Linked DNA regions of Homo sapiens. The protein of the gene in region 1 purifies or fractionates together with the protein of each later gene. This does not show direct contact. Each region holds a gene or a part of one and is shown in the gene's direction. Other genes may lie near its edges. The genes, in order: MYO19, SIPA1L1, ACTR2, DENND2B, SIPA1, CYBRD1 and ITPRID2.

Evidence for each region.
Region 2: the proteins of MYO19 (region 1) and SIPA1L1 purify together in Homo sapiens (affinity purification with mass spectrometry; one large-scale study listed by BioGRID and IntAct). This does not show direct contact.
Region 3: the proteins of MYO19 (region 1) and ACTR2 purify together in Homo sapiens (affinity purification with mass spectrometry; one large-scale study listed by BioGRID and IntAct). This does not show direct contact.
Region 4: the proteins of MYO19 (region 1) and DENND2B purify together in Homo sapiens (affinity purification with mass spectrometry; one large-scale study listed by BioGRID and IntAct). This does not show direct contact.
Region 5: the proteins of MYO19 (region 1) and SIPA1 purify together in Homo sapiens (affinity purification with mass spectrometry; one large-scale study listed by BioGRID and IntAct). This does not show direct contact.
Region 6: the proteins of MYO19 (region 1) and CYBRD1 purify together in Homo sapiens (affinity purification with mass spectrometry; one large-scale study listed by BioGRID and IntAct). This does not show direct contact.
Region 7: the proteins of MYO19 (region 1) and ITPRID2 purify together in Homo sapiens (affinity purification with mass spectrometry; one large-scale study listed by BioGRID and IntAct). This does not show direct contact.

The regions. Positions count from the first base shown.
Region 1 is NC_000017.11:36,500,369-36,503,868, reverse strand, and holds part of MYO19 (unconventional myosin-XIX), read left to right. Parts: intron 1-668; coding exon 669-772; intron 773-1,907; coding exon of another isoform or gene 1,908-1,927; exon of another isoform or gene 1,928-2,010; intron 2,011-2,633; coding exon 2,634-2,800; intron 2,801-2,909; coding exon 2,910-3,039; intron 3,040-3,500. UniProt on the Homo sapiens protein: Actin-based motor molecule with ATPase activity that localizes to the mitochondrion outer membrane. Motor protein that moves towards the plus-end of actin filaments. Required for mitochondrial inheritance during mitosis.
Region 2 is NC_000014.9:71,585,976-71,589,475, forward strand, and holds part of SIPA1L1 (signal-induced proliferation-associated 1-like protein 1), read left to right. Parts: intron 1-322; exon of another isoform or gene 323-953; intron 954-1,595; 5' UTR 1,596-1,897; coding exon 1,898-3,395; intron 3,396-3,500.
Region 3 is NC_000002.12:65,255,331-65,258,830, forward strand, and holds part of ACTR2 (actin-related protein 2), read left to right. Parts: intron 1-214; coding exon 215-364; intron 365-3,500. UniProt on the Homo sapiens protein: ATP-binding component of the Arp2/3 complex, a multiprotein complex that mediates actin polymerization upon stimulation by nucleation-promoting factor (NPF).
Region 4 is NC_000011.10:8,713,175-8,716,674, reverse strand, and holds part of DENND2B (DENN domain-containing protein 2B), read left to right. Parts: intron 1-856; coding exon 857-1,072; intron 1,073-1,968; coding exon 1,969-2,065; intron 2,066-2,632; coding exon 2,633-2,677; intron 2,678-3,500.
Region 5 is NC_000011.10:65,641,101-65,644,600, forward strand, and holds part of SIPA1 (signal-induced proliferation-associated protein 1), read left to right. Parts: coding exon 1-500; intron 501-1,149; coding exon 1,150-1,277; intron 1,278-1,362; coding exon 1,363-1,539; intron 1,540-3,500. UniProt on the Homo sapiens protein: GTPase activator for the nuclear Ras-related regulatory proteins Rap1 and Rap2 in vitro, converting them to the putatively inactive GDP-bound state. Affects cell cycle progression.
Region 6 is NC_000002.12:171,528,974-171,532,473, forward strand, and holds part of CYBRD1 (plasma membrane ascorbate-dependent reductase CYBRD1), read left to right. Parts: intron 1-3,500. UniProt on the Homo sapiens protein: Plasma membrane reductase that uses cytoplasmic ascorbate as an electron donor to reduce extracellular Fe(3+) into Fe(2+).
Region 7 is NC_000002.12:181,898,230-181,901,729, forward strand, and holds part of ITPRID2 (protein ITPRID2), read left to right. Parts: intron 1-650; coding exon 651-690; intron 691-784; coding exon 785-883; intron 884-2,466; coding exon 2,467-2,675; intron 2,676-3,500.

The DNA.
Region 1 (3,500 bases):
CCCAGAGTGAGATGTGGAAATGAAGAGAAAGAGGCTGGTCTGTAGAAGTCAGCTGGGAACTAGGGAGCAGCACCCATTCGTTCATCCATTCACTTATTGTGCACTATTTTGTACCCAGCTGATGGCTGTGACAAAAGCCACACTGGTACAATGTTGGGGACAGAAGCCAGACTCAGGAGGGCTGACAAGCAATTGGGAGGAAGTGCAGATATCAGGTGCCAGCAGCTGTCTGAGAAGTGTTGCCTTGATGAGGAGCAGGGAGATCTGGGGGAGGCAGAGGAGACTGTGGGGTCAGAGAGGTCAGAGGGGAGATGTGGCCAAGCATGTCTGCGTCATAGGACTGGTCCAATTGTTTGGGGAGAGGCCTGTCAGCCCCTTTGGAGGGAGGCAGCCCGCAAATCCCCTGCTAACACAAGAGATGCTTTGTGTTGGTAGACCAAGGCAGCAGGGAGAGCAGACCCATTTTAAATAGTCTTTATGGGTTTCCAACTAAGTGATCCTAGAAATCGCTTCAAAACCACATTCACATTCAGTGGGGATACTCGGGGAGGGCAGCACCGTGCTGTGTTGTTGAGCAGATTAAATAGAATAACTTCTGATGAGCCCTGAACCGTTAACCTGGCTCACAGATGAAGTAATTCTCTACTTCTGCCTGCTTTGGCCTCCAGGGTCTCTCACCGAAACTTTGTAGAACGATACAAGTTACTAAGAAGGCTTCATCCTTGCACATCCTCTGGCCCCGACAGCCCATATCCTGCCAAAGGGCTCCCTGGTGAGTGGGACCCATGAGTTAGTCATTTGTGCAACCACAGTTTACTGAGCATCTACCCTGTGCCCTGTCTTAGGGCTAGGGGCTGGGGCTTACTGGTGAATAAAACACAGCCCTGGTTTTGGTTCAGTGGGGGAAACAGATTCAAAAAAGACAAATAGCATGGAAAGTGGAAAAGCAGAGCTATGAGCAGGATGCTGTGGGTGGTGCTAGGGAGGTGTGAATTGGGGAAGGCTTCCTGGAAGAGGTAGTATCTGAGAATAAATTGGATTAGCCAGGTGATGGGTGGTCCACATGATAAATGTAATCTGAACAAAGGCCTAGAGGCTTGAGGCAGCAGTGTGGGTATGAGGAACTCCAGCCAGTTCTGTGTTGCTGGTTCATTGAGGCAGAGAACTGGGGCAGGTGAGGCTGGAGTGGCAGGTAGGGCTCCATCAAGGAATCTGGACTTTATTCTCTGGGCAGATGAGCAGGCACTGCAGGGGAAGGAGCAAATGACTCTTATCAGCCTCACACTTTCTGGAGACCACTCTGGGGGCACCATGGAGGGCTGTGGGATTGAGGCTGCAAAGTTGCCCCAATAGAGAGAAACAAGAATTGTGGGCACAGTCGGGAAATATTTGTTGGAAGAAACTGGTCAGTCTTGGTAGGGGCTTGACTAGATGTAGAGGGAGAGGAAAGGAGTAAATTAACTTAGCCTGGGAAGTGAGGAAAAGCAAGAGGAAAAGAGGTTCAGGGAGGCTGAAGAGCCCGGGCATGGGTGACTTGTCCTGCAGGTCCAGTGAAGAAGTCTGCAAGGCACTTAGGCAGGCTTTAGTCTCAAAGGAAGGATCTGGAGGCCCTCATATGGGGGTTGTCGGCATGCAGATAAAAGAGAGGCTGTGGGAGCCACAGGGCCCAGACACAGGCAGAGGGAGAACAGGCCAAGGACAGGCTGCCGGGGGGCCCCGCCTCGGCAGGACCCCAGCCCAGCACCTCTGCCCCTCCCACCCAGCCTTACCCTGGGCCCCTCACAGCCATTGGGGCAATCCTGCTTTGTTTCCTCCCCTCCTGGGCAGTTTTCACTTTCCTTTCACCCTTTCTCCTTTCTTCTCCCTCTCCATGGTTTGCTGTCCTGTTCCGTGTCTCTTGCCCATAGCCCTTCTGGCCCCTGGTTGATTTTGCTGCTGTTTCTCATCTGTGGTGTCTCCTTTGGCAGCCTCTGTCTTCAGAGAGGCACTGGGCATCTAAGGTGGTCAGAGCCCTCAGGTAAATCCTACCTCTCCAGGAGTCAGCTCTGCGAGCTGCGGGAGGGCAGGCAGTGGGACACGGGACCTTTGCAGGGCTGGGATTTTTTAAATTTATTTTTTAATTTATTCTTTTTATTTGCAGTAGAAGATTCCCAAACTAAGGGCTGGGATTGGATCTCCCTTTTCCCATACATGGTGGGGAGTTGAGGGGTCGGGGCTGAGGGAGTGGCCTATAGCTGCCCTATTTGGCCCTCAGGATGTGTGTTTGGGCCTTGGAAACAAATGCTGGCTGAGCAGCCTGGGATTCCAAGCTTGGAAGGAGTCACCCTTCCAGGTGTCAAGCACCCTCTGCCAGCCTGCCCAAAGGGACTCATGGCAGTAGAGGCTGTGGGACACCCCAGGACACACAGGCGCAAGTGGGTATTCCAAGGCTCCACGGAACAGCTAGCACCCTGAGGGACAACAGAGAGGCTGTTTGTGGCTTCCTCCAAAAGAAGAACAAGGAGAAAATGGCTAGAGCCAAGAACAGCAGGAAAGAGACCTGTAGAGTGCTAGGGAGGCCAAAGCCAGTTTCTTCAGGCCACAGAGGCATGTAGAGATGACCATGCACTGATGGGGCCATCTCCCTCCCCCAGAATGGTGTCCACACAGCGAGGAAGCCACGCTTGAACCTCTCATCCAGGACATTCTCCACACTCTGCCGGTCCTAACTCAGGCAGCAGCCATAACTGGTGACTCGGCTGAGGCCATGCCAGCCCCCATGCACTGTGGCAGGACCAAGGTGTTCATGACTGACTCTATGGTGAGCTGGTTTGGGGATGAGGAGGTTACAGAGGCAAGCTGTGTGCTCTCCTCAGCAGGAGGGGGCAGGGGGAGAAGAGGCTGCCCTCAATGGATGCCTTTTCTCCCAGCTGGAGCTTCTGGAATGTGGGCGTGCCCGGGTGCTGGAGCAGTGTGCCCGCTGCATCCAGGGTGGCTGGAGGCGACACCGGCACCGAGAGCAGGAGCGGCAGTGGCGGGCCGTCATGCTCATCCAGGCAGGTAGGTGGGCAGGTCACCTGTCAGCACTGCTCACAGACCCCACAGGATGTTGGTTTCCTTTGAAACATAGCTCGTCGAGTCCCCATCTCCTGAAGCTGTGTCCCAGCCTGAAGAGATGTCCCTGTGGTGTGCTGGGATTCAAATTCCCTGTCCCCCTCACTCATAACGTCTCTCCAGTTCAATGGAAACCAAGTCACTCCACAAACAAAGGTGCTCTGTAAGAAGTGGAGGCTAAGCGTTGTCTAAGCGTTGTCTTTAATTCCTTTCTCAGACCCTGACAGCTGTTTAGGCCAACTTTTTTTCCCTTTATGACAACTCAAACCATTACCTGCTGGGCTCTAGGGCTGGAATGAATTTAAGGAGAAGGTAAAAACCAAAAGGAGTTCATCAGATGAAAAGATGTATTAACCAACATGTTCATAGTGGTCTTATTTTGAAAAGGAAAAGTGTTGGAAAGAACC
Region 2 (3,500 bases), on another chromosome or scaffold:
CATTGAAAGAGGAACATGTAAAGTTCTGGAATGTAAAGGGAATAATAGCAGTCTGACAGTAGAAGTATCTAGAAAGCTCAAAAGCCATGTTTAATTAGGTAGCAGTGCAAAACTATTATCCCTTTTACAAAAGATGGTGAAGAGGAGTGCTAGTGAAAACAAATGGCATTTATCTGAATGGCTCCACAGACTCAGCCAGCACGAGCCCAGCCAGAGCTCGCCTCACCCTGCATTCTGCAGGCAGCATGCATTTTTTTTTTTTTTTTTTGAAACACCCCTACATGTTCCAGCCTTTAAATAGCAGCGAGTCTTCTAAAGTGATGCTGTGTGCTGCAAGAGAAATGAAAGCGCCTGCCTTGGAGGCAGGAAGCCGACTAGGGAGATGCTTAATTATCGTGGAAGTAGGTGCTTGTTACCATTGAGTGGAGAGTGCAGCAAGTGCAGGTCGTCCTCCGGTGTCAGAGCCGTGATTTGTAGACAATGCCGCCCTGTCAGCTCAGTGCTGGTTCAGCAGCATCTTTCCAAACATGTATTTGGCAAGAATTTAAAGGCCACCTCTTGTGTAATTTGTGGAGTCTTGGAAAAGGAGCCTCTGCCTTTCTTTTCAGAATGTACGCAACCATGCAGAATTTTGTACTCAGAATCTGTGTCTCCTGCCTTCTGCCTGACGTGCTCATGAGGAAGTTTGTTTCCATGCCCGTCACCTGGAAGGATGCTAACAGTTCTCTGTAATCTGTTGGGGATATGGAGAGGGCCACCCAGAGCTGTGTTTTGTTTCTGCCGTCTTCATAAATTAGCACTGATGGGGTGGAGTAGGTTGTACTGCATGAGGAAATGCAGGCATTTTGTTCATTAGTGAGATACTTCTAGCTTTTAAGAGTACAAGAAACTAAGGAGAGCTTGGGAAGAGGTGGTGGTGAATGCTGGATTCATTCTGCAATATCCTCGTCTCGGTAAGTAATAAAGTAGAGGAAAATACAAAAGAGTGCTAATGGATATAATGGCTCTGGGAAAACTCTTTTTATTTATTTTTTCCTGCTGTATTTGTTTTTGCCAACTATGTTAAGCCTTTGTAAGGAAACAAAAAACATGTATTGATTTTGGAATAGAGGAGTTAAAAAGTGATTGTTGCAGCATATTCAGTAAAGTCATTTTTCAGTTTTTACTTTTGTCAAAAAACTCTGTTGCTCTAATTATCTTATTCACTTGGTTACATCTCAAACTTCTGGTCATCACAGTAGCTCATGATGTTCTACATTTTTAGAGGTCATTGGAGCAAAAGTCTGTACTTTGGGTAGGAGCCATGATATCCAGAACAAGATGTACCCCTCCCCCTGCCCCCCATTTTATGAAACAGTTCAATTAAGATGAAGTCTTAATAGTTTTTTTTTTTAGAATATAAATTATGGATTTTATCAAATGGTTTTTACTTTCTTCCTTTCTTTCAAACCTGCTTTACTAAAAATACGGATTGTGGAACTGTGAATCCTAATCCATTATTGAGTCTTTTATCTTCATGTGTCTGGTTTTGACAATTGCATGTTTGTTTTTAGATGTATTTATCTGCTAATTCAAATTATCCTTTTCTCTTTTAGAGAAAGCATGGGATTATGGCAACCACAGAATCTCAGTAGTACAAGTTCCATTCAGTTTTTTCTGAAAGAAAGCCCTCTGTTAAAGTGAAGCAAAGAAACTGTTGTGGATTATAACGTTTAGAAGTTCCAATTTTTCAGTGCTTTACAAATAAAGCATCATTTAACCTTTTAAATGAAAAAGATTAAGATCTCATGCAACTGTTGTATTTTCTGGAAGCCATTCTCCAAAAGGGAAGTGCACATTTAAAACACAGATATGATGGTCCTTGCTGCAGGGATTTAAGTCTACTTGCTTTTACATCATGACCAGCTTGAAACGGTCACAGACAGAAAGGCCTCTTGCCACTGACAGGGCCTCTGTTGTTGGCACAGACGGCACCCCCAAAGTCCACACTGATGATTTCTACATGCGGCGCTTCCGGTCCCAAAATGGCAGCTTAGGATCATCAGTTATGGCTCCTGTAGGACCCCCCCGAAGTGAAGGTTCTCACCATATAACCTCAACCCCCGGAGTCCCAAAAATGGGGGTAAGGGCAAGGATTGCAGATTGGCCCCCAAGAAAGGAAAACATAAAAGAATCTAGCCGTTCAAGCCAGGAAATAGAAACCTCAAGTTGCCTTGATAGCCTGTCCTCCAAAAGCAGTCCTGTGAGTCAGGGAAGTTCTGTTAGCCTCAATTCCAATGACTCAGCCATGCTGAAAAGCATACAGAACACGCTGAAAAACAAGACAAGACCGTCGGAGAACATGGACTCCAGATTTCTCATGCCTGAAGCCTACCCCAGCTCCCCCAGAAAAGCTCTTCGCAGAATACGCCAGCGAAGCAACAGTGATATCACCATAAGTGAACTTGATGTGGATAGCTTTGATGAATGTATCTCACCTACATACAAGACTGGACCATCACTGCACAGGGAATATGGTAGCACATCTTCAATTGATAAACAGGGAACATCTGGAGAAAGCTTTTTTGATTTGTTAAAGGGCTACAAAGATGACAAATCTGATCGAGGTCCAACTCCAACCAAGCTCAGTGACTTTCTCATTACTGGTGGTGGCAAGGGTTCTGGTTTCTCTTTGGATGTAATAGACGGGCCTATCTCACAGAGAGAGAACCTCAGGCTTTTTAAGGAAAGGGAAAAACCACTCAAGCGACGTTCAAAATCTGAAACTGGAGACTCATCTATTTTTCGTAAATTGCGCAATGCCAAAGGTGAAGAACTTGGGAAGTCATCAGATCTTGAAGATAACCGATCAGAAGACTCTGTCAGGCCCTGGACATGTCCAAAGTGCTTTGCCCACTATGATGTCCAGAGTATATTATTTGATTTGAATGAGGCAATTATGAACAGGCACAATGTTATTAAGAGGAGAAACACCACCACTGGAGCTTCCGCAGCTGCCGTGGCATCCTTGGTCTCTGGACCTCTGTCTCATTCAGCCAGTTTTAGCTCCCCAATGGGCAGCACAGAGGACCTGAATTCCAAAGGAAGCCTCAGCATGGACCAGGGAGATGATAAAAGCAATGAGCTTGTAATGAGCTGTCCATATTTTCGGAATGAGATAGGTGGAGAAGGGGAGAGGAAAATCAGCCTTTCAAAATCAAATTCTGGCTCCTTTAGTGGATGTGAAAGTGCCTCCTTTGAGTCTACCCTTAGTTCCCATTGCACAAATGCAGGAGTGGCAGTACTTGAAGTGCCCAAGGAGAACTTGGTGTTGCACCTAGATAGAGTGAAAAGATACATCGTGGAACACGTAGATCTGGGTGCATACTATTATAGAAAATTTTTCTACCAGAAGGGTAAGTAGAGATCCTTTATTTCTTACATTTTCTTTTGCAGTACTTTCTGAAGAAAAGTACTGTATATTAAGATATTTATTAACAATGTGACATAAGATTTGCATG
Region 3 (3,500 bases), on another chromosome or scaffold:
TACTTATGAATTGTTAATTCTTTTACCCTCTCTGAAACTGAAATATAAATCCTTTTATGGCGGATAAAATCCTGCTTCTGAAATAGTAGGAGCTGAGGATCCACTGCCCATTCTGTTTGTTATTGATGTGACATATTTAATGAGCATTACTAGCTTTTGCAGAGTAGAACTCATTCAGATGTATTATGAACTTATTGCTATTGTTTTGTACCAGCTACTTCTGTTGCGAGGATACGCCTTCAACCACTCTGCTGATTTTGAAACGGTTCGCATGATTAAAGAAAAACTGTGTTACGTGGGATATAATATTGAGCAAGAGCAGAAACTGGCCTTAGAAACCACAGTATTAGTTGAATCTTATACAGTAAGTGTTTCCAGTGTATAATATATATGTGTTTTAAAGTGGACAGCCATGATTATTGGTGTCAGCTTAAGGAGGTTTTCTTAGAATCAGTATTTTTGTCTTGGGTTGTTGTAATATGTATATGTGTGACTTTTAATGTCTCTTTCTACATTAAGTTTCTATTTAATTATTTTAGGGCACCATATAATGCAAATTAAGGCAAGAATCATAAATTACTCTCTATACTAGGATATAATTAGATGCGAGATGTTATTTTGAGATTCTAGTATTTGGCATAGCATTTCTCAATGTATGTTTTACAGAACTTTATTTCCCTGAGATGCTAATAAGCATTTCACAAAAATTAAAAAGGATTACATTGTCAGATGAGTTTGAGAAAGAGTTGATTTCACTTCACTGTAGAACTCAGAGCCTTTGGTATGCTAATATGGGCACAATTAATATAGTATGCGTGTTTTTCAGACTTATGCTCTAGGACTTTTCAGAATTTCATGGGATTAGTGATCTAAGAAACATACTTTGGAAATGGTCATTCTAGAGCATTGCTTTACTAATTCAGTAGGTGGCAGCCTTTCCTGACTTAATATTCTTTAATGAGGTGTTAAATGTTAACTTGAAATTGTAACTAATGAGATTTAGTACCTGGTTATAGTTTATAACACCAGAGGAGTTGATCCTACTTGAATTTTTAATGAATTACCATCTTAAGCCTATTAAATTTGTCTGAGTATAAAGTACTTCCAGGTCTCATCTTTGATCTAGTTATTACTAAAATGAAACAGTAATAGGCAATGAAGGCAAGTATTTTAAAACCATATGATGCATACTAGCTCTACATATTCACAAATATATGCAAAATAGTCATTTTTAAAGTAATTATAAAAAATTTGTTGTTGGCCGGGCGCGGTGGCTCACGCCTGTAATCCCAGCACTTTGGGAGGCCGAGGCAGGCGGATCACCTGAAGTCAGGAGTTGGAGAACAGCCTGGCCAACATGGTGAAACCCGTCTTTACTGAAAATACAAAAAATTAGCTGGGCAAGGTGGTGGGCACCTGTAGTCCCAGCTATTCAGGAGGCTGAGGCAGGAGAATTGCTTCAACCCAGGAGGCAGAGGTTGCAGTGAGCTGAGATCGTGCCACTGCACTCCAGCCTGGGTGACAGAGCAAGACTCCATGTCGGTAAAAAAAAAAAAAAAAAAAAAGTTAAGATAGTGATCCAAATATTCAGTAAACCCCCATTTAAAATTTTTTTAAATTTATTTTTTATTATACTTTAAGTTCTGGGATACATGTGCAGAAAATGCAGGTTTGTTACATAGGTACACATGTGCCATGGTGGTTTGCTGCACCCATCAACCTGTCATCTGCATTAGATATTTCTCCTAATGCTATACCTCCCTCCCCTTGCCGCCCCCCACCCAACAGGCCCCATGTGTGTTGTTCCCCTCCCTGTGCCCATATGTTCTCATTGTCAGCTCCCACTTATGAATGAGAACATTTGGTGTTTGGTTTTCTGTTCCTGTGTTAATTTGCTGAGAATGATGGTTTCCAGCTTCACCCATGCCCCTGTAAAGGACATGAACTCATTCATTTTTTTATGGCTGCATAGTATTCCATGGTGTATATGTGCCACATTTTCTTTATCCAGTCTAACGTTGATGGGCATTTGGGTTGGTTCCAAGTCTTTGCTATTGTGAATAGTGCTGCAGTAAACATATGTGTGCATGTGTCTTTATAGTAGCATGATTTATAATCCTTTGGGTATATACCCAGTAATGGGATCGCTGGGTCAAATGGTATTTCTAGTTCTAGATCCTTGAGGAATCACCACATTGTCTTCCACAATGGTTGAACTAATTTACACTCCCACCAACAGTGTAAAAGCGTTCCTATTTCTCCATATCCTCTCCAGCATCTGTTGTTTCCTGACTTTTTAAGGATCGCCATTCTAACTGGCATGAGATTTTGTGGTTTTGATTTGTATTTCTCTAATGACCAGCGATGATGAGCTTTTTTTCTTATGTTTATTGGCCACATAAATGTCTTCTTTTGAAAAGTGTCTGTTCGTATCCTTTGCCCACTTTTTCATGGGGTTATTTGTCTTTTTCTGGTAAATTTGTTTAAGTTCCTTGTAGATTCTGGTTATTAAGGCTTTGTCAGATGGATAGATTGCAAAAATTTTTTCCCATTCTGTAGGTTGCCTGTTCACTCTGATGATAGTTTCTTTTGCTATGCAAGAAGCTCTTTAGTTTAATTAGAACCCATTTGTCAATTTTGGCTTTTGTTGCAATTGCTTTTGGTGTTTTAGTCATGAAGTCTTTGCCCATGCCTATGTCCTGAATGGTATTGGCTAGGTTTTCTTCTAGGAGTAAACCCATTTTGTAACTTAATCATCTCCAGATTTGCTCTGGAGATTCCTTCCTGAAGTCTTCTTGACAGTTTCTCTAGTTGTCTGATTTTCCATCTACCTGACTATTTTGGAAGAAAGTGGCTGGCACAGGGCAAAAGATAAGCAAACTAGGAATGTAAAACATGTTTTATTTCTTCCTTCTCTCTTTTCTCAAAGAATTTGAGGTAGGCTACAAAAATATATACAAATAGGCTGGGTGTAGTGGCTCACACCGGTAATCCCAGCACTTTGGGAGGCTGAGATACGAGGATCACTTGAGGCCAGGAGTTCATGGCCAGCCTGGGCAATATAATGAGACCCTGTCTCTACAAAAAAAATACAAAAATTTGCCAGGCGTAGTGGCACGTGCCTGTAGTCCTAGCTAGTTGAGAGGTTGAGGTGGGAAGATTGCTTGAGCCCAGGAGTTCAAGGCTCAAGTTTTGAGGCAGAGAGCTAGGATTGCACCACTGCACTCCAGCCTGGGTGAAGGAGCGAGACCCTGTCTCAAAAACAAAACAAAATCCATATATATATTTGATATATATATGCACACACACACATATACACAAGTATAAAGTAATAAGCTGATGAATAAGTGAGGAGGGACATGGGTGGACAAATACAGAACAGGATAAGATTTGGTGCAAAGAAATGGGATGCCTGCAGTTTTAACAGTTCATTAAGGTGATTAGAAAACTTGACCCCATGCTGGCCAGCAGCCAGAGAATGGAGAGAAGCCACACTATCA
Region 4 (3,500 bases), on another chromosome or scaffold:
CTCCGTCTCAAAAAAAAAAAAAAAGATTTACCCTCTAATTAGGACTCTTTTCAAACAGGCTTCCCCTGAGTTTGCATTGCCAGATTGATTGGGTGAGAACAGGAAATTGGGGGCTGTGGAGGAAGGAGGATTTGCTGAGGAGTGAGGAGAGGCAATTCCAGAACCAGACAGTGGTTGGGTGTCTGTGGGATACTTGCCTCCTGACAGGGTCCGCGACAAGGATGGTGCCCTGGGATGAGAGGTCAGCGCATATGGAGAGAGGCAGAGAGTAGATCAGGGCTGGGGAGAGGGCAGCCAGGGCCTTGTGGGTATGGGATCCAATTCAGTGTGAGGCCTGCCTGGCCCAGCTTTGGTGGTCAGAGCCCAGAGCCCCTGTGTTCTCCATGGGAGCAGTTAGGAGGGCCAGGCTGCAGGATCTCCCAGCCCAGCAGGCTGGCCAGTAGGTTATGGCCTCTGCTGTCAGAAACCTTTTAGGATTGGCTCGGGAGCAGAGGTCCGGAAGACTGGTTCCATCACCCAGGCCCAGTAATTCTTGTCCCATAGCTCAGGAGGACCCCCGCAAAATTCCCACTTAGTCTTCTTTTTCCACTCAGATGAGAGCACAGGTGTTTTTAGCCTCTGCTTTCGTTTTTTGCTGGCAGTAGTGAAGCTTCCTTTAGGGAAGGCAAGTATCTAATCTATCCCTGACCTGGCTGATTAGCAGCTAAAGTCTTAAGAGAGGGATGGAAGTTCCAGGGCAAGATGGCGGGGATCCAGGGATGCCGGCCCTTGGCCTCTGTGTCCCCATCCCAGCAGACAGACACTGGCCAAGGCCTCTGTGGCAAGCCCCTCTCGCACGTCCTCTCCCCCACGCCAGCTTTCCCTGAAACCCAACAGCCAGTCCCTGCGCAGTGGGAACTGGTCAGAAAGGAAGAGCCACCGGCTGCCACGATTACCCAAGAGGCACAGCCATGACGACATGCTGCTGCTGGCTCAGCTGAGTCTGCCGTCCTCACCCTCCAGCCTCAATGAAGACAGCCTCAGCACCACCAGCGAGCTGCTGTCCAGCCGCCGGGCCCGCCGCATTCCCAAGGTACCCTCCCCAGAGGCAGCCCACTGGAGCCGGGCAGGTGGGCGGGCAGGCAGCCAGCCTTTCTCTCTCTTTCCTGGCTTCCTTCCTTCCCTAATCTGGACTGCTTCCTCGATTCCCTTTGAATAAATTCTGGGTCCGTGCACTGGCCTCTTTTTCATCTGATTAATTCCCCTTTCTTATCAATAAAGATGCATTAACTGACCTTGGTGCTCAGATGTTAGAGGAAGGAAAGTCTAGCCGAGGTTCCCCATTAGTAAGTGTGGTGTATGAATTTTGGGGTATCCGCACACATAAGCATTTCCAGGCTTTCAAGGACCTAGGACTCAAACAAGGGTTCTTCCTATAACTCTCAGCATTGAAGAATTTTCAGCAATGATTTTCACACATAGGCAGCCAGGCCCAAATCCCCAGCCCAACGCAGCAGGATTTAGCCAGATGGTATTTTTAACCTGCAAACAATGCTTGGGTATATTGGGAATTTAGCTTCTTCCTGTCGGGGCCCCAGGTTATGGCCCAGAGGGGAAAGGCTAGAATCCTTGTTCCTGTTATTGCATCTCAGAGGCTCTTTGTCTCAGTTGGTTCAATGACTCTTGGGACCCAGGAGCTACCATCCTGTCTAGTTTGATCACAGTTCCTTCCTCTGGGGAGCTAAGTTTAGTGTCCTTGTCTTGGGGCAGGAGACCACTCCTGGGGGACTAGGTATATGGAGAGCTACCATGCATGGCTGGTGAGTCACCACTTGAGGTCGGTTCTGCAGTTAGACCAGTCCTGGACCCAGCGGGTGCAATGCAGAAAGCTTGTACCATTAAGGGCAGGGATGGGCTCCTACTCAGCCTTCTTGGAAGTAGGGCAGCTGGTGTTAAGGTTACCTCACCCATCCTGCTTTTCTCACCCAGCTTGTCCAAAGAATTAACTCCATCTACAATGCCAAGAGAGGAAAGAAGAGATTAAAAAAGTTGTCTATGTCCAGCATTGAAACAGCATCACTGAGAGGTAGGCTTTGGTGCCAGAGCTGGTTCAGCTGTTTGGGGCCCTTGGGCATTAGGAACGGGAGAGGCATCAATTTACCTGTGGAGGGTAGAGCCCTGCCAGGAAATGGCCACGTAGGAGGGAGGAGCAGACAGGGAAGAAAGGTCTGGGATGGGTTCCTTCAGACTTTGGGCTGTGAGGCCCTGAGCAGGGAGGTGGGTGTGGGAATCGGCTTCTGCAAAAGGAAAGGCCAGACTCACTGAGCATTGCGGTCTGTTTCCCATTTCAAATCTTGACCTCCTGGAGGCAGGGTCCATCTTTTCCAGGCCTGTAGGCCCCTCTTCTGGCTCAGCCTCCAACTCAGGCCCTCAGCTTCCCTCATGGGTTTGAATATAGGATTCGCAGTGTGAGCTCTGAAGGAGCCTGGCCCCAGGCCACTCAGCTCCCTGCCTGCAGATGCCTGACCATGGGCCCAGAGTAGCCCAGAGAAGGTAGAGATCCATCCCCTGTGAGAAAAGCTGGGGTGGTGGGGGAGCAAAAAACATTGGCTGTGAGGTCCAGCAAGTATGTACTCTGCTGTTCCTTTTCCAGATGAAAACAGTGAGAGCGAGAGCGACTCTGATGACAGGTTCAAAGGTGAGGCACAGCTCCCATGAGTACGGAAGCTCTCCCAGCAGGGCTGCAGGGAATCAGCCTTCCCTTCCGATGCATGTGTGGTTCCAGTGTCCCTAACCGGCCTGATGTGGAGAGGTGACAGACAGGCCAGATACCAGAACAATAGAGCAGGGAGCCACAGGGAAGTCTGTCCTTATAGACATGTGAGCTCAGCCCTGCAAGGTTAAATCCAGATGTCTCCCTTTGCCAAATGTAAGGGTGGTGACCTGCCCAAACTGTCCCAAGCCATTGTCCATGGGAGTTGGGTGCTAGATTTGCCTGGTAAATGTTGTAGATCTCAGCCGGGCGCGGTGGCTCATGCCTGTAATCCCAGCACTTTGGGAGGCCAAGGCGGGCAGATCACGAGGTCAGGAGTTCGAGACCAGCCTGGCTAAGATGGTGAAACCCCATCTCTACTAAAATAATACAAAAATTAGCCAGGCACGGTGGCGGGCGCGTGTAATACCAGCTACTTGGGAGGCTGAGGCAGGAGAATCACTTGAACCCGGGAGGCGGAGGTTGTAGTGAGCTGAGATCATGCCACTGCACTCTAGCCTGGGCGACAGAGCAAGACTCTGTCTCAAAAAAAAAATTGTAGATCTGGAGGGTCAGAGAGGGGTACAGAAGATTACAAGGACCTCTTCTGGCAAGAAATGTGCCGTAGACTGAGGAAACTGTTTCTCTGGAGGCCCTGCAGTCCCCCATCTCCCCTGTCCCCAGAGAGGAGCTTGAAAAGGTTCTGGAACCTTCACATTCCAGGGTCCTTGGATAAATCTTTGTGCTTTCTCTACTGGGAAACCCTGCC
Region 5 (3,500 bases), on another chromosome or scaffold:
CAGGCCCCCCACGCCAGCCAGCCCCCGTGCCCGTGCCCACAGCCACGAAGAGGCCAGCCGACCTGCAGCCACTTCCACCCGGCTCTTCACTGACCCGCTGGCACTGCTGGGGCTGCCAGCAGAGGAACCAGAGCCTGCCTTCCCACCAGTGCTTGAGCCTCGATGGTTTGCCCACTATGACGTGCAAAGCCTGCTCTTTGATTGGGCTCCGAGGTCTCAGGGGATGGGGAGCCACTCAGAGGCCAGCTCTGGGACCCTGGCTTCAGCCGAGGACCAGGCTGCCAGCTCGGACCTGCTGCATGGGGCACCTGGCTTTGTGTGTGAGCTCGGGGGTGAGGGTGAGCTAGGCCTGGGTGGACCAGCATCCCCACCTGTGCCCCCTGCACTGCCCAACGCGGCCGTGTCCATCCTGGAGGAGCCACAGAACCGAACCTCGGCCTACAGCCTGGAGCACGCAGACCTGGGTGCTGGCTACTACCGCAAATACTTCTATGGCAAAGGTGAGGAAAGGCAGTTCCAGGGAGTGGAGGAGGGGGGCTGAAGAAGAGGTCCCTGTCACCTGCAGTGCACACAGTAGGGCTCATGAACTGTCCATTTCCTGTAAAGTCCCTGGCCCTGGGAGGGCTCAAGAGCTGAGCTGGGGTCCTCCTGGACCTACTTTCAACCACCTTCTTAAGGCTAATCCCTGGCTCCTCACCCCCAGCCAGGGCTGGTCCCTCTGCCTCCGTATTGGTTCATCCTCCATCTGGTTCAACCTGCCAGGCTGGGGAGAGATTCCCTATGGGCTTTTCTGTGGGGTGAAAACTCAGGCCTCAAATCCCTGCATCCGTGAACCTTGTTCGCACCAGCACTGCGGAGAGAGGGCTCCAGGACATAGAAGGGAGAATGAGGGCGTGGTGGGTGGAGCCAAGGCAGGATTTAGGCCTGGGAGCTGGCCGCGTGGGTCTAGGTCTGGGTCTGGGTCCACCTCTGGGTCAGGGTTGAGATCAAGATATTGAGCTCGGGGCTACAGAGGGGCGGGACTTAGTCTAGGGTCAACATTTGGTGGTGAGATGAAGCCTAGGGCGGGGCTTAGTGATGCGCGTGGTCGAGCGGGGGCGGGGCTGCCAGAGGGCGGGACCAATCGTTTTCTTCGGCGCGGTCCCCCAGAACATCAGAACTTCTTCGGGATGGACGAGTCGCTGGGCCCGGTGGCAGTGAGCCTGCGGCGGGAGGAGAAGGAGGGCAGCGGAGGGGGCACCCTGCACAGCTACCGCGTCATCGTGCGGACCACGCAGGTGGGCCGGGATCGCGGGATCAGGACGTGGGTTGCCTCCCCGACACCTTGTATGCATCCTGAGTGCCCTTACACCCCTTCCTCAGCTCCGGACACTCCGTGGCACCATCTCGGAGGACGCGCTGCCGCCGGGGCCCCCACGGGGTCTGTCCCCAAGGAAACTTCTGGAGCACGTGGCGCCGCAGCTGAGCCCCAGCTGCCTGCGCCTGGGCTCAGCTTCACCCAAGGTACCACGGACGCTGCTCACACTGGATGAGCAAGTGGTGAGTGGCGGGCCGCGGAGCCCCCAGCCATACAGCTGGCCCCAGTCTGAACCCAGCCTGCCCAGCTCCCAAACCCCTAGCCTTGACCCTGATCCTGGGCTGGGTGGTGACCCCAGAAGAGCTGGCTTTTCAGAGACAGGGCATCAGAGTTCATCTGGAGCCTTGCGTCTCAAAGTGAGCTCTGTAGACCAGCAGTATCCACATCATGTAGAAATGCAGATTCTGGGGCCCCACCCCAGACCATCTGAATCAGAGTTTGCACTTTATTTATTTATTTATTTATTTATTTATTTTGAGATGGAGTCTCGCTCTGTCACCCAGGCTGGAGTGCAATGGTGGAATCTCAGCTCACTGCAACCTCTGCCTTCCGGGTTCAAGAGATTCTCCTGCCTCAGCCTCCTGAGTAGCTGGGATTACAGGTGCATGCCACCACGCCCAGCTAATTTTTGTATTTGTAGTAGAGATGGGGGTTTTACCATGTTGGCCACGCTGGTTTTGAACTCCTGACCTTGTGATCTGCCCACCTCGGCCTCCCAAAGTGCTGGGATTACAGGCATGAGCCACTGCCCTTGGCCCAGAGTCTGCATTTTAAAAAGATATTTGCAGCCCTAGATGCCCTGGTCTGACTCACCCCACTGGTCCTGCAGTTCCCGCATCATTCCTGGCCAATTTCCCCCACAGCCCCTGCTGGGTTTCCTCTAACATGTGGTGCTCACAGCTTCCTGGAGCGGCTCCTTCCATCCCCCACTCCATGCTGAAAGCTGCCCATTGGCTGAGTCTTCTCCTCTGTATCATTCAACCCATCAGTCATTCAACAAACATTTCTTAGACCTTTTTGGTGCCAGGCCTCAGACTGGATGCTGGGGACAGGTCTAGACCAGGTGCTTTGCTTGAGTAGCTCACAGCTGGGTGGGAGAAAGAGACCCACAGAGAACTGCTGAAACACAGGAGCAGTACTGGAACACTGAAAGGGAATGTTGAGGGCTGCCTGGGCCACGACGGTAGTGATGAGAGCCCTTCCTTGGCCAGGGTTTTCCAGCATGGAGAACACAAAAGGGCTCAGGCCCGGATAAGCAGGTGTTTTCTGGTCAGAAGGAATAACTTGTGCAAAGGCTTGGAGAATGAGAGCATGGCACATTAGGCAGTCAGTTCAGCGTGGCTGGGGTTGGGATTGTGGGGAGGGGCGGGGGAGAAGCTTGCATTTGTTCCCGTGGACACTGGGGAGCCATGGAGGGATACGGTGCAGATCTGAGAGGGGCAGCTCTCTGGCTGCAGCATGGGGACTAGACTGTACGGGGCGGGGATGCCAGGCTGAAGGCTATTGCAGTTGCCCAGGCTAGACACAGTGGCAGCGATAGTGGAGGTGAAGAGGAGGTGACAGTCCAGGAAGGACTGGGTAGTCATGTGGCTGACTGGAAGGGGTGAAGTGCTAGGATTTCCCAGCTTCTTGGCCCCCAGGAGTGGTGGTTTAAGGAGGAGGAGCAGGGTGGGGGAGTCACAGCAAGGTGAGACATTAGGCAGCCGGAGAAAAAGGCCCGGGGTTTGGTAGGCCGGTCTGAATGGGAGGCGGAGATGGGGGTGTCATCCTTGCTGCAGCCAGGGAGGGGGAGGAGCATGGGTGGAGAAGAGGCCCAGGCAGAAGAGGGCGGGGTTCCTGGGGCCCTAGGCAAGGTGAGTTTCCAGCTATCCCCAGTGCCACCTATGGCTGAGAGGGTACCAGGATGAGGCCACATCTGGGGACCATATGGGGAGTGGGGGGTGCAGGGGGTTGGGAGGAATGAAATCGAAGTGGGGACTGTAAGTGCAGACAAGTTTAGTTGTAGAAAAGGGAGGTGACCGCTGGAGGGGAGCCTGTGCTGTTTGGAGGAGTTCAGAGCACCTTGAGCTGGGCATGGTTATCCAGTTATCCGCAGAGGGAAGAGCCGGGAAGAGGGCACAGAAATGGGAGCATGGGGGGCAGA
Region 6 (3,500 bases), on another chromosome or scaffold:
AATTTATTGTCTGTCTTCTCCTACTAGAATATAAACTCCCAGAAGGAAGGGATTTTGTCTGTTTTCTTCAATGCTGTATCCATAGCATTACCCAACACATAATAAACATTCAATGAATATTTACTAAATTGATGGAAGTTTGGCCAGTTCTTTAAACCAGAGGGTCACACCAACAAGGATTGGAGTACAAAGTAAATAGGTGAAGTAGATTTAGTATACAGCACCCACCAGGGTGTCTTTCTGGATTCAACTAAACATTCAGACACGAGAAACTGCTGCCAGGGGCGGTGGCTCATGCCTGTAATCCCAGCACTTTGGGAGGCCAAGGCAGGTGGATCACCTGAGGTCGGGAGTTCGAGACCAGCCTGACCAACATGGAGAAACCCCATCTCTACTAAAAATACAAAATTAGCCGGGCAGGGTGGTGCATACCTGTAATCCCAGCTACCCAGGAGGCTGAGGCAGGAGAATCGCTTGAACCCAGGAGACAGAGGTTGCGGTGAGCTGAGATCATGCCATTGCACTCCAGCCTGGGCAACAAGAGTGAAACTCTGTCTCAAAAAAAAAAAAAAAAAAAAAAAAGACATGAGAGACTATTAAGACCATACTGAACACCAGTCTACTCAGAAGGATGTAGGACAGAAGTCAGAGCTTGCTGGCAGGACAGTGGCTGGGCAGTGGCAGTGGGCATCCTTGCAGCAGCAGTCATCATAGCCCTCAGTAAGCTATCCTTTCCTCAGGTAACAGCTCAGGCACCAGGAGATGAGATCTGCACTGGTGAGATCAGAGCTTAAAGTCCCCTTGCCCCATAGGAACCACTGTCTTTTGTAGTACTCTGTATACCTACTTCTATGATCCCTGCAAGGGATAGGTAGTGGGTTGAACAGTGCCCCCCAAAAAGGTATGTCTAAATCCTAATCCCAGGTATCCATGAATGTGACCTTACTTGGAAATAGGATCTTTGCAGATGTTAACTATGGATCTCAAGATGAGGTCACCCTGGATTTAGACTGGGCTCTAAATCCTATGATTGGTGCCCTTATAAGAGAAAGGAGAAGGAGATTTGAGACAAAGACACACAGAGAAGAAGGCTATGTGAAGACAGGCAGAGATTGGAGTGATGTGGCCACAAGCCAAGGAAAATGGAGAATTGTTGGCTCCCCTAGAGGCCGAAGAGGGTATGGCATGGCTTCTCCCTCAGGACCATCCTGCTATTATAACACCTTGATTTTTAATTTCTGGCCTCCAGAACTGAGAGATAATAAATATGTTGTTTTAAGTTACTAGATTTCTGGTAATTTGTTATGGTAGCTCTAGGGGATTAATATAGGCTATAACAGTTATCACTGCACTCTGGGAAGCCCAAAGTATTGGCATCGTCATCAGGTATTTACAGATTTTTCATTGTTTCTCTCAGTCCAGACACAGTTTACCAATTGGGTCAGTTTTTATTATAACCAGCGTTGCCTAATAACTGGTGACAAACCACTTATCTGTTTACTAAGGCAGTTAATTAAAGGTCAAATCCTCATGCAGCAGAGTATAGGTGTACACTTGTGTGAGAGGTGGGAACTGTAGGGAACTAGAGAGTGCTCACTCCTGGCAAAACAGGAAGCTTCCACTTAGCCCCAGTGGATCGTGGCTACGTGAGGATGCCAGTTCAAGGTTGCCAGGGCTTCTCATTCTCCCGAGAGAATCCAGGTTTTTAAAAAATTGGTTCAAACAAAAAGTAAACCAGCCACAAAAACAAAACCTCCAAAACATTGGGCTGATCAAACAAAACAACATCTTTGGACCAAATTCCAGTCCATAGCTTCCAGTTTACAGGTGACTCCTGCTAGGGTTTTCTGACTTGACTTTGCAAGGTTTTAAATTTTTCCCTTAAAAGGTAGAACATTCTTCCTTTTTAAGAAAGATAGAGGGCCAGGCACAGTGGCTCATGCCTGTAATCCCAGGACTTTGGGAAGCCAAGTAGGGAGACAAGCCTGGGCAACATGGTGAAACCCCATCTCTACAAAAAAAAATACAAAAATTAGCCAGGCGTGCTGGTGTGTGTTGGTAAGTCCCAGCTACTCAGGAGGCTGAGGCTGGAAGATCACTTGAGCCTGGGAGGTTGAGGCTGCAGTGAGCCATGACCATGCCACTGCACTCCAGCCTGGGGACAGAACAAGACCCTGTCTCAAAAAAAAAAAAAAAAAAGAAAGACTAGAAATCTTTGTTATAACTTTTTTCTTTATATAGAGACTTCCTTAAAAGGTCAAAACAAGCTTTGAAATGACTATACAGACTTTGGCTGTACTTTTCTAAGTTTTTGTTGTTGTTCATTCAATTTCTTCATATTATCCTATCCATTTAATTAACATATTTATTAAGTACTTACTGTGTACCAGACACTGTGTAAAACAAGTAAGATACAGCTCGGTCTGCAAGCTGTTCCCATTTAATTTGGTTGGACACGAGTTATGGTTTCTTTCTTTTTGCTTGTTTGTTTTGATACAGGGTCTTGCTCTGTCAGCCAGGCTGGAGTGTAGTGGCGAAATCATGACTCACTGCAGCCTCGACCTCCCGGGCCCAAGTGATTCTTCCACCCCTCTCAAAGTGCTGGGATTACAGTTGTGAACCACCGCACCGTCCCAGCTCAAATTATGATGGGGTTTTTTGTTGTTTTGTTTAGAAATGTAGGTTATATTGATCCTTAAATATTTAGAGCTGGCTGGGACCTTAAGTTCTACCCTTCATTTTAGAGACCAAATGTCTGGCCAGGGTCAGACAACCAGGTAGTATCAAAGCCAGTACTCTTTCTAACCTGTCATAATATTGATATGAGGCACAAGAAAATATAGCTGATCTTTCTGAAAACACACAATTTCTGAATATTTTTAAATGTGTAGTCAATTAATTGAATTTTTTTCTTTTTCTACATGTATTTGGTACCAAGTAGCTGCCTTTGCGAGGATTTTAATCACTCAGAGATGTTTCTAGGGCTAAAAATATCTTCCAAATCATCTGAATCACTTCCTTCATTTTGACTTTCCAGAGATTTTCAGTTTCATGACATTCGTGCTGTGAGACAGTTTGAATGCACAGACATGTTTCAAAGCTCTGATTCTCTTTGACAGCCACTGCAGGAATCTTTTCAAGAAGTTTATTTAAAGAAGATTCTCTGCTTTTTCATTTAAACTTAAGGTCCTTTGGATAGAATCTGGTAAGCTCTTGCGTGCAGAGGGAAATGAGTTGTGGAGACTGATAATCCTGTTCTGAGCATTCTGCCAAGGAGAGTGAAATAATACTTTATTCAAAGAGGGAAGGGAAGTGTAATGAGCACACCATGTTTAAGTAGAATTCATAAGTGTTTTAAAATTCCAGTGTACTTCAAACTCAATAACTTACTCTTATTTTATTTTTGAATTCACTTCAAGTTGTTAAGTGGGTCCAAGTGCAGAATGCTTTTTACTTATTTGAAAGGGCCATTTGGTCTTCTATTAGCTAATACTTGCATC
Region 7 (3,500 bases), on another chromosome or scaffold:
TGTGTGCTGAAATAGATGTGTTTATAATTAATTTTATTCTTTGTATTTGTCTATAAATTTAACTTTAAACATTAACACTTACCTGTTTAGAACTTTAAGCTAAAGTTCTATCATAAAGTTGAAAGGCAATTTTTAAAAGAAAGTTTATATTGAAATAAGTAGAAATTTTCATGTTATATGTGTGAAAAATCAGTTATAACCTTAAAAAAAATTCACATTAGAAACTGACATATACTATTGCCACACTTAATGTTAAATCATGTTTTCCTCTTAAGATATTATTCATTAATAGCTTTTAAATTTAATAATTAGTACCACATATATGGTACATATCTTCCTCATTACTTATTTCTAACCTGTTAAAGAAATTTAACTGGTTCCCTATACGTTTTTTTATTTTAAGCACTCAAGTGAGAGTAGTTAGTTTCATGTTGCCACAACACAAAAACACCCTTCAAAAGCTCCTGGCCCTGTTCTTATCTATCTGTATATCACTTTTAATAATGCAGATTTAATGGACCAAGATAAGTGTTTAATATATTTGGCATTTAATTCTAATATTGTAGGTAATTAGATTTCTTGATAATTGTATCATAGTAGTTATAGTCCTACTAACAATTGTGCTCTACGTTTATTGTTTTTACCTGTAGCCAACCACCTCCATGAAAGTGATGCTCAAATTGAAAACTGGTATGTAGCTGTTTTGTTCTATTTCTTTTAAAAAATGAAGACCTTTAATGAAAATAAAGTTATAAAGTTTTATATAATCTGATTTTGTTCGTAGCAATAATATCTTGGCCAAAGAGAGAAGATTACAGTTTCATCAGAAAGGGAGAAGTATGAATTCCACTGGATCTGGGAAAAGTAGTGGGACAGTTTCAAGGTAACTTATTCTGAAATTGTGTTGGAATTACATTGTGCTATAGATGACCTACTCTTATCATTTTTTCAATCTTGGATTTGACCTTGATCATATGAAATCAGAAAGAACACAAAAAGAGCGTTTCCTGTACCAGCACAACTGATAGGAGCTTTTTGTTTTGTTTTGTTTTGTTTTGTTTTACTTTGAGATTAAATAAAATGCAATAAATAGGCTTATACTGCTGCTGGAACCCATAAATGAGTATTTTGAGCCCTCTCAACAGCCTGAAAGAGGAACTCCATAGCGGAGTAACTTGTAGTTGTAGAGAACCAAAATTCATTGTTAAGGACTTGAGTTAACTCTGACACAAAAATCAGAATAAATTTTTCTAAGTTACAGCTTGATATTTAAGCATACTTTTTTTCAACACATTAAACCAAAGATCTTTCAAATATATAGTATAGCCAGGCCCAGTGGCTGACACCGGTAATCCCAGTGCTTTGGAGTGTCAAAGTGGGTGGATTACTTGAGCTTAGGAATTCAAGACCAGCCTGAGCAATATGGGGAAACGGCGAAACCCTGTCTTTACAAAAAATGCAAAAATTAGCTGGGTATGGTGGGATCCACCTGTAGTCACAACCACTTGGAAGGCTGAAGTGGTACCCAGGAGGTTGAGGCTGCAGTGAGCTATAATTGTGCCACTCCATTTCAACTTGGCTGACAGAGTGAGACGCTGTCTCAAAAAAGCCAAACAGAAAAATACCCTTGCCCCTCTCCCGCCCGCACATATAGTATATTAAAATACATCAGTGCATGTGCCTATGGAATCCAGTTTAAACTGTTATCCAAATTATAATATTAGAATCTGAGCATTTTGTCTGAAACAAATTGAAATGTCTCTCTGTTGAAGTTCCATCTCTAACTTTCCTGTTTTCTTCAGTGAGTCTTAGAAAGCTTGGATTATCACTGGTATGAGAGAGAAGGGATACTAAATATTTAATTCCCAATAGGATTAGAGTAGTTACCTTTGTGTAACCCACACTCTCTGTACCTTACTCCTCCTACTTCCTGAGTGGAAGTGGTTGGAGAGAAGTTGAAAGTAAGCTCCTCCCTCGCTTCTCTGAAATCAGCTTGTTATCTTTATTGTTCCTCCTAGGACAATTGCCACTCCTAGGACAAGGATAACAGAAAAGCTCAAATTTCACAAAATGTCCCTCAGTTCCTTTTAATTTCTGCTTTAATCTGTTCATTCCTTATTCTTCATCATCTGTCTTCTACTTGTTTTAGCTGCTTTACAGGGAATCTCTTAAAATGACAAAACAAATAAGGTGAGGAATCACGTAGGGAATCTCTGACTGTGTTCGTTGGGGTTAGCTCTTTTCTGCAACTCTAGCAACTTGAGACAATGAACCCTTTATAAGGGCTATTTATTCCCCAGTACACATGTGTAAACATGGTAAAATAAATAATGGTTTCCAGAGCAGAAGCTGAGAAAAAAGATTTTATCACAGGAAATCAGTAATATGTATTCATTTATAATGTGGTGTGGACTATCAATTTATTTTATATTTTCATGTTTCCTTTTTTGCCCCCTTTTTTTGTAGTGTTTCAGAATTGTTGGAACTTTATGAGGAAGATCCTGAAGAAATTCTTTATAATCTTGGATTTGGACGTGATGAACCAGATATTGCTTCTAAAATTCCTTCCAGATTTTTTAATTCATCATCCTTTGCCAAAGGGATAGATATTAAAGTATTTTTGAGTGCTCAGATGCAACGGATGGAAGTAGAAAACCCAAATTATGCTTTAACAAGTAAGATTTTTAAGTGTTAGGCATATTATTTTCTTAAATTATAGCATCTACAGCAAGATGGTCTTATTTTAAAGCCTTAATTTTCAGGAATAGCACTGGAAAGTAAAGAGATTGATTAACGCAAAAGCCATTTTTACATGTTAAAATTAAGCTATTTTATTACTCCATTTATAGTGGTTAATTTGCCTATTTTTCCCCTCCTCCCCAATTCCTGACTTAAGTGCTACCATAACTTATTTGCAGAACCTTATTGTTGTCTACAGATTGCTTTTATTCAAGAAGAAAAGAAGTAGGAGAGGAGCCTTGTTAATCTTAAATGAAGTCAGTCTGTTTCAGGAACTAGTCTGGCTAATTTGATCAGTTTCACTCATATCTTTGCTTGTTTTCTTTCTGTTAGCCAAAGATTCCAAAAATAGGATTCCAATCCTGCATTGTTCATGGATCAGTTTTAAGAGATCAATAAATCCCTCACCCTGCAAATTAGGTATAAAATATATGCTTACATGCATTTTCTTAGGAGAATTTTGAAAGAGTCTTAATGGAGTTCAAGACTTCAGAATAGAATCACAACTGTAGATTCAATAGCTAGTTCTTTCTGTTTTATTCAATGTTGCCATTATGCTTTGTGCTTATTTCTGATTTTTTAAAAATACAAATTCTAGTGCTTAGAGTAAAAATCTTGCTCCTTCCCACCCAGTGAATGTAGAGAAGGTTTAAGTGTTAGATGAGGAAAAAATAGGGTTTTATAATCTTTGTGATCTAAGTGTAGTTTTTGGAATTCTAAACAATAATATGCATTTAATATATGTGTATGTATATATATAA